Regions from separate parts of the Homo sapiens genome. Here all the other regions are linked to region 2. The links come from fine-mapping of genetic effects on gene expression. A gene starts in region 2. Each other region holds a variant in brackets. All regions are shown on one strand. Distances are between the middles of the regions.

Region 1 (2,500 bases), 87 kb before region 2:
GGTTACAAAGACTTCCCCGTTTTCTCTTCTAGAAATTTTATAGTTTCGTACTTTGTATTTAGGGTTCTGACTCATTTTGTGTATTCTGTCAGGTACAGATGAACTTTTTTTTTTTTTTTTTTTTGCATATGGACATACAATTGTTCTAGAATCATTTGTTGAAAAGGTTGTCCATTCTCCACAGAATTACCTTTCTAAATCTGTCAAAAACCAGTTGTCCATAAATATGTGGGTCTATGTGCGGACACTATTGTACCATGCATCTATTTGTTTACCATTAAGGAAATACAATCCTGTCCTGATTTCTGAGGCTTTGTAATAGATCTGAAATTAGGTGGTGTTAACCATCCCACATTTCCTTTCTATTCTAACATCCTTGTGGTTTTTCTTGATATTTTGCATTCCCATATGAACTTTAGGATCAGTTTGTCCATCTCTATGATAAAAGACATCAGGGATTTACAATGAGATTGTGCTGAATGTATACATCCACTTGGGGAGAACTGGCATCTTAACAACATTAAGTCTTCCACTGAACACTGTGTATGTGTCTCTCCACCTACTTAGTTCTTGATTAATTTCCTCAGCAATAGTTAGTTTTCACTACATAGGGCATATTGCATATTTTGTCAGATTTATTGTTAAGAATTTCCTATTTGTTGATGCTATGGAAAATGGGATTTCTTAAAATTTAACTTTCTTAGAGATAGGGTCTTGTTATGTTGCCCAGGCTGGACTCAAACTCCTGGGTTCAAATAATCTTCCTACCTCAGCCTCACAAGTAGCTGGAACTACAGGTGTGCACCATCTGCTTGATGAAAATGCATTTTTTAAAACCAATTCAATTATTCATTACTCATATATAGAAATAAAATTAATTCTTTCATATTGATCTTGTATCATGGAACCTTGTTAAATCTACTGTTGGTCTTTTTCATAGATTCCAACATATCTTCTACACGAAATTTCTACAGAAAATAATGTTGTCTGTAAATGAAGACAGCTTACTTCTCCATTTCCACAATGGATGTCTTTTACGTCTTTTCCTTTTTACTTACTGTGCTGGCTAGAATCTAAAGAACAACGCAGAAACAGAAGTGATCAGAGGACACATTCTTCTCTTGTTCCTAATGTTAGAAAAAAGAATTTAGTCGTTCACCATTAAATATAATGGTGGCTGTCAGTTTTTCATAGATGCCCTAATAGTTTGAGGAAAGTTTAAAAATCAGGAATCGATGTTGGACTTC[G/A]GCAAATATCTTTTCTCCATCTATTGAGATCATACAGTTTTAGCTTTTTTGGCCTGCTAATATGGTAATAATACATTAATTTTTGAATGTTAAATGAAACTTATATTCCTGGAGTAAACATCACCTGGTCATGATGAATTTATATATATTGTTAAATATAATTTGCTAAATTTTTTAGAATTTGTGCATCTATGTTCAAGAGGGGTCCTGGTCTGTAGTTTTGTTTTGTAGTAGTTCTGTCTAGTTTTGGTATTAGGAATGATACTGGTGCCATACAATGAAATTGGAGGTATTCCTGCCTTTTCCATATAAGTTAAGCATTTGAAATTAAAATCTGAAATGCTCCTAAGTATGAAACATTTCCAGTGCCAACATGAAACTCAATGGAAATGCTCACTAGAGCATTTTGCATTTCAGAATTTTGGATTTGGTATGCTCAAACGGTAAGTATAATGCAAATATTCCAGAATCTGAAAAATTTCTGGTCCAAAGCATTTTGGATAAAGGGTACTCAACCTATAGTTTGTTTGATATTGTTATCATAGCTGCCCCTTGAACAACATGGAAACACCCATTTCCATCAAGTCATCTCCTATTAATTTAATTACTCTGGTGTAGTATCTATTTGCTCTTGAATTTCTTCAACATCCTCATCTTGAAACCCTTTACCCCCTAACTTTTTTTTTTTTTTTTTTTTTTGCCATATCCACAATCTGTTTCATGATTTCCTTGACTGGCTCTATCATAAATCCTGTGAAATCATGTACTACGTCTGGACACAGTTTTCTCCCATAGAAATCTTTTGTTTAGACTTTCATGGCATTTCCTATAATAATAATGACATCTTCAACAGTGCCATCTTTCCAGACTTTTGTGATGTTTTATCTGGATTCTATTCTACAGCATTAAATGCTTTACATAGCATACTGTGCATACTAAGCCGTAAGGGTCCTTAGGACCCCCTGCTCTAGAGGTTGAATTAGAGGCATGTCTGGGGTCAAGAAGGCCACTCTGAAGCCTTCAGTATTGAATTCATGGGGTTCTGGGTGGCCAGGGGCATTATCCAATATCAAAAAAACGTTAAAAGGCAGTCCTACCCTGGCAAGGTACTTCCTAATTTCAGGGACAAAGCACTGATAAAACCAATTCAGAGGGTTCCCACTATTCGGTCCTCCCTGTTTTGCAATTAAAAACCGGCAGATGGTATTTATAATTTCCCTTCCAGGCTGGTGTTTAGTAGCTTTATCAATAAG
Region 2 (2,815 bases):
AGAGGGGCATAATATGTTAGTATCTTAAGAGTGTACAAGCAAATCATGACTTTATTTAGGTTGCCTACTTTAGGTCATCCTAACATGAACAGCAGTTTAGAAAAGAAAAATCCCCTCTCAGCATTCTCAGGGTGACAATGAGGGTGGGGATAATGGCAGATATCTCCCAAAAGTTCAGCGTGGGCCAAAACCCAAAAAATCATATTCCACGATGTGCAAAAGGTTTCTTTCAAACCATGACTAATAATTTAAACAAATACATGTTTACACCAAATAATCAACTAAACAAAGTCCTTGTTCATAGGAAAACATGACATTAAGCCGAATGGTTTCAAAGACAATTCTTGAAAATTTTACCTATTTCCCTTTTGGTCGGCACCCGTGACCTGAAAAGCCTTGGCTAGTAGTTCCGATTAGTGTCAGATCCTCATAATGTGACATTTTCAGGCGTCAAATTACAGTAAAACTACTAGGGCAAGAACAAGAGCCAAAAGCAACAGGGAAGATGTCCATTTTCCATTTACACCCCCCCCCCAATTTACCACTTAAGAAAAACGGCACGTTTTTATATTAGAAAAGGGCCGCATCCTTCCAGATCTAGCGCAGCCTTAAGTCCGTGATTTGAGGAACCTGCCGCTTCCAAAATACAGGCTGAGACGTCCTCCCCATGAAGTAGTTTTGCGCTCTTGCACCACCTCCTTTGTCTACGCTGTCCCTGCAAACTCCTAGCTCAATGCCCTCCAGCAAACGAGCTGCCTGAACGCAAAGATGACCGTTCCAAGTCTTTTTTAAAAGAAGGGAAAAACCCAGTCACGCTCCTGGAGCCTGGTTCCCACGGGAGCAGGCCGGGCTGTCCACGACGGAAGCCTCGACCCTGGCTGGGGCTGTCGGCCGGGCAGCGCGGGAGAGCCAGGGCCAGAGCCGGGGCCGGGAACCCTAGTCCCGCCGCCTACGCGGGATGCAGCGACCACCGCCCGCCGCCCCCGGGCCGGCACTCACCTCCGTGGAGGGGCAGCGGCGCCAGCACCTGGCCGCGGACCTCGGCCTTGGGGGAGTCAAGCCCGTAGCGCCCGCGGTCGATGCGAAACGTGAGCGGGGCGCCGCGGCCGGGCTCCTGCACCGTCACGTTGATGAGCGCCGTGTAGTACTCCTGGCTCGCGTTGTCTGCCCGTGCCGGCCACAGGCTGCAGGTCAGCAGGGCGAGCGCGGCGAGCCGGGCAGGGCCCGCCCGCCCCGCGCAGCTCATCGTCCCTCCGGCAGCCGCCGCTGCTCGCGGACCGGGCTCCGGGGCCGGCGCCTAGAGGCGGGGCGGGCGCGGCCCGGGCGGCGGCGGGAGCGCGCGCGCGCGGCCTGCGCGGGGCCGAGCCCGAGCGCGGCCCTCCTGGACGCCGCGGCCCCGCCGCTCGCCGCCCTCACGTCCACTGCCCGCCTGTGGGGACGCGCCCATGGGCCCTCGGCGAGGGCGGCGTCTCAGGTCGCACGCGGGCGTCTCTTCGGGGTCCCAGGAGGGTTGTAGAAGCGTGCCCCCTCCATCCCCCCGGGTCGGTCCCACCGAATGGGAGGCGCCTCGCAAGGACGCGGCGGGGGAGGGGAAGGGCGGCACGGGAGGAAGCGCCCCGAGGAGGGTCAGCGGAACACAAAGTCCCTCTCGCGCGGCTGCCGCCTGAGGCGCGTGTCCGCCGCCGCCCCGCCCCCCCGCTGGTCTAGCGGCAACGCGCAGGCCTAAGGCGCAGTCCCGCCCCGAGCGCATGCGTGCCAGGGCCTGTCCGCTCCCGCCCGCCTGCACGAGGGCCCGGGCAGCCGGGTCAGCCGCTGGTGCTGGTTGTTTCTCTGTCAGGCGTGATAGCCGCAGGGCGTGGAGCCCGGGAGATTTGCGAGGACGTATGGAAATGTGTGAGAACAGACTACAAAGGAAAAAAAGCCATAACTTTAAAAGAAATGTTTAAAATTAAATGTCATGAGATTTAACATTCACGTCATGCGGTTGACATCATGGATGGGGGATGTCTCTGGCCCGGACCTGCAGGGACACGAGTGGTTGGGAAAGACCTCTAGGGTAGCCGTCCCTAACCATTTTGGCACTGGGGGACGGGTTTCCAGGAAGAGAGTTTTTCCAGGGACTGAGGGAGTTGAAGTGGTTTCCGGATGAGGCTGCTCCACCTCAGATCATCAGGCGTTAGATTCTCGTAAGAAGTGGGCAACCTAGGTCCCAAGCATGCGCAGTTCACAGCCGGGTTCACGTTGCTATGAGAGTCTAATGCCGCCCTGATCTGACAGGAGGCGGAGCTCAGGCGGTGATGCTCACTCACCTCCTGCTCGCTTACTGGTTCCTCGAAGGCCCTGGGCCGGTACAGGTCCGCGGCCGGGCGGTTGGGGAGCCCCTGCTCTAGTGACTAGGTGAACTACTCCAGGGGCCCCCGGACCAGAGGGTTGCAGTGGGAACCCCCCCTCCACCTTCCGAAACGCGCGCGCGCGCACACACACACGACTCTCATTTTCTCTCTCCATGGCGTTTAAAAGATACACATCGCTATAAAGTATCAGCTAAAAGGAAGAATGGGGCAGTGCAGCCGAATTCAGGAACTTACAGGATCTTTGTGGGGAGGCGGAGGGGGAAAGTTTGGCGTCTTCTGACCAGCCAGGGTTGAGTCTCCTGTCTCCTACTGCGGGAAGTGGGTGGAGTCAGCTTTGCACAACCAAATGTTCTGAAAATCCGGAAAAGAGGTGGCTCCCCAAAAAGAAATTTGAGGCACTGTTTCCAGGAAAGGGTACGGATGCAGTGCAGGCTAAAACTTAAGATGCCCACCACTGGCCA
Region 3 (2,500 bases), 47 kb before region 2:
TGGTGTCAAAAGTTATCATATGGCAGGGGGAAAAGAGTTAACTTCACAGTGGAGAACCTGACAGACACTACCTCAGCCAGGTGACCAAAGTCAACATCACTGGTGATACTTCACACTGATAGCACATAAACTTGGTATGACAGGATGCATGCTAATGGTACTTTACAAATCCCTGTGGTCTTCCTCCCAAAAACCCATATCCCTAGCCTAATTATAAGAAAACTATCAAACATGTCCCAGTTGAAGGACATTCTACAACATGCTGGGCCAGCAGTCCTCAAAGCTGTCAAGGTCATCAAAAACAAGGAAAGTCTAAAAAAGTATCACAGCCAAGAGAAAACTAATGGATCATGATGACTAAATGTAATGTGGTGTCCTGGGTGGGATCCTAGAACAGAAAAAAAACTAGGTGAAAACTAAGGAAATATGAATAAAGTAATAGACTTTGGTTAATAATTATGTACCAACATTAGTTCCCTGTGGTACAACAAATTAACATGTCACATGGTACCTAACAGGAAACTGGGTGCAGGGTTTGCAGACATTCTTTGTACTATCTTCCCAATTTTTCCATAAATGTAAAACAGTTCTAAAAAGTAAAGTTTTTTTTTAAAGACTCATTATATAAAAGGGAACAACTTCTCATCAGAAAAAAACGTAAGCCAGAAAACAACAAACAACACCTTTGAAGTGCTGAAAGGAAAATTCTGTCAACACAAAAATTTATACCTGTCTTTGAAAAATGATGGCCAAAAAAAGACACTTTCGGATAAATAAATGTTGAGAGAATTCATCATCAGGAGATCTGTGCTGCATGAAATGATTTAAAAAAAGGGAAATGACACCAAACGGAAACTTGGAAATTCAGAAAGAAATAAAGAACAGCAGAACTGTTAGTATGTAGGCAAACATAAAAGCCTACCGTTTTTTCATGAGTTTTGCCATTCCCACTCCCTTCACGAATGAGGGGTCCCTTTTCATTCTTCCTCTAAACGCTCCTCAAACTTAAGCATCTGACAGTGGGTCTCAACAGGGGCAGTAAAGCTCTCCTGGGGGTGTCTGGAAGCCCTGTGGGAGGGGTCTCCATGCTGTCGCAGGCGCAGAGGTGTGCCACCAGCACTTAGCAGGTCCACA[C/G]CTGGGAGGTGAAACACTCTGTAATACAAAAGACAGACCTGCAGAGCAAAAGGACTGTCCCAAAATACCCCTGCCTTGTCCTCCACTTCCATCCTGAATCGAGAAGCACTGTAAGCATCAATGCGGGGTAGAGATCCTCACCCAGACCTCTAACACCTATAGCCTAAGGCTGCATGATCCTCCTTAGCAGCTGTGCCAGTGAGACCAACTCTTGAGATCCTAACTCCAAGGTCAGGTCCATCATCATATGAACTTCTATCAGTTAAGAACATCCTCCGTCCTGGAACCTAGGAAACTGATTTCTAAAACAGTATTTCAAACCCATGTAGATCCTTTATATGATTTTACCTTCCTCCTCTTCTGCTGCCAGTGAGGAAAGAGAAGCACAGAAAAGACAAAAAAGTAAATCAAGTGACAACTTCAAACAACCCACTTGGGACACGGAGACTGCAAGGAAGGCTAGAGGACAGTCTCATGTATCTGCTGGTGAAGGCACTCTCCAGTTCCACTTCAGATTTAAAGAAAAAAGAAAATTAAGAGCTTATGGAAGTTTTAAAATGGAACCATTGCATTTATTTTATTAAAGGCTATTTTTATTTTTTTAAAGCTACTGCTTAAGTGTTTCAGTTTTAGATTTTGATAATTATGAATTTTTTTTAAAAAAATGTATGAACCAGATGGAAGATACAGTAGAAGCATGTGCAAACTCAGGCAAAAATATAAATGCAATTTAAACCCTTACTTCCTGCCACAGCAGTACACTTCAATTCCAAGCTCCATCTTTTCTGAGGTAGTTAAATCCATATTCAATTAGAAGCTAAAAAACTTTAAACGGTAAAACAATAGTATACTTATATTACTCATTTTCTTGATAGGCATTTAGAATAAAGAAAATAGATTTACGTTAAGTGGCCCAAATTACTGATACGTAAAGGTATTCTACAATGTGTTTGTGATTTCTTTTTACTTGTTTTCATAAAGTATTTTTTGTATTCACAGTGAATTTTCTATATTTTACAAAGTGTGACATTTTTCTATTCAATGCTAGATAATAAATATAGAGCTAAATACGTTTTTAAGAGAATATGATGGAAAAAAGGTGAAGAGCCATTCAACTAATTTTGTTCAACCATCCAAAAAAAAAAAAGAAAAACCCAGTAAGAAGCATCTGATATTGCTGATTGATAAAAAGATTAAAAAGCAACATTATTATTTGGTTACATGTTTATCTAAATTACCTCATCTTCCTTTCAACAATGGAAAGAATGTCCACAAAATTCTTACAGACATACAGATAAAACTACAGCTAATTCTATCAGACAGTGATTTAACACAACTTAAGATGATTAAACAATAACAGTAAAGT

Direction of the effects. Alleles are on the strand shown, and positions count from the first base shown. SD is a standard deviation of normalised expression in the study named. Not every link is listed here.
For the expression in sun-exposed skin of the gene that starts at base 1,303 in region 2, allele A in region 1 goes with a lower level than allele G (small effect, 0.33 SD a copy in GTEx).

What was found.
Region 1: its variant is fine-mapped to the expression of RNF130 in sun-exposed skin (GTEx, PIP 0.91).
Region 3: its variant is fine-mapped to the expression of RNF130 in whole blood (INTERVAL, PIP above 0.99).

What each region holds. Positions count from the first base shown.
Region 1 is chr5:179,983,230-179,985,729 of GRCh38, forward strand. The region is part of intron 3 of RNF130 (ring finger protein 130); the gene reads right to left. Among named protein-coding and RNA genes, the nearest start is that of MIR340, 31 kb to the right of the region's middle. The variant G/A (reference allele first, on the strand shown) is at 1,248.
Region 2 is chr5:180,070,457-180,073,271 of GRCh38, forward strand. RNF130 (ring finger protein 130) reads right to left here and starts at 1,303. Exons shown (of 9, transcript NM_018434.6): 1 at 1,000-1,303. The coding sequence starts at 1,246. RefSeq lists an enhancer at 977-1,684 and a silencer at 1,574-1,653.
Region 3 is chr5:180,023,849-180,026,348 of GRCh38, forward strand. The region is part of intron 2 of RNF130 (ring finger protein 130); the gene reads right to left. Among named protein-coding and RNA genes, the nearest start is that of MIR340, 9.7 kb to the left of the region's middle. The variant C/G (reference allele first, on the strand shown) is at 1,135.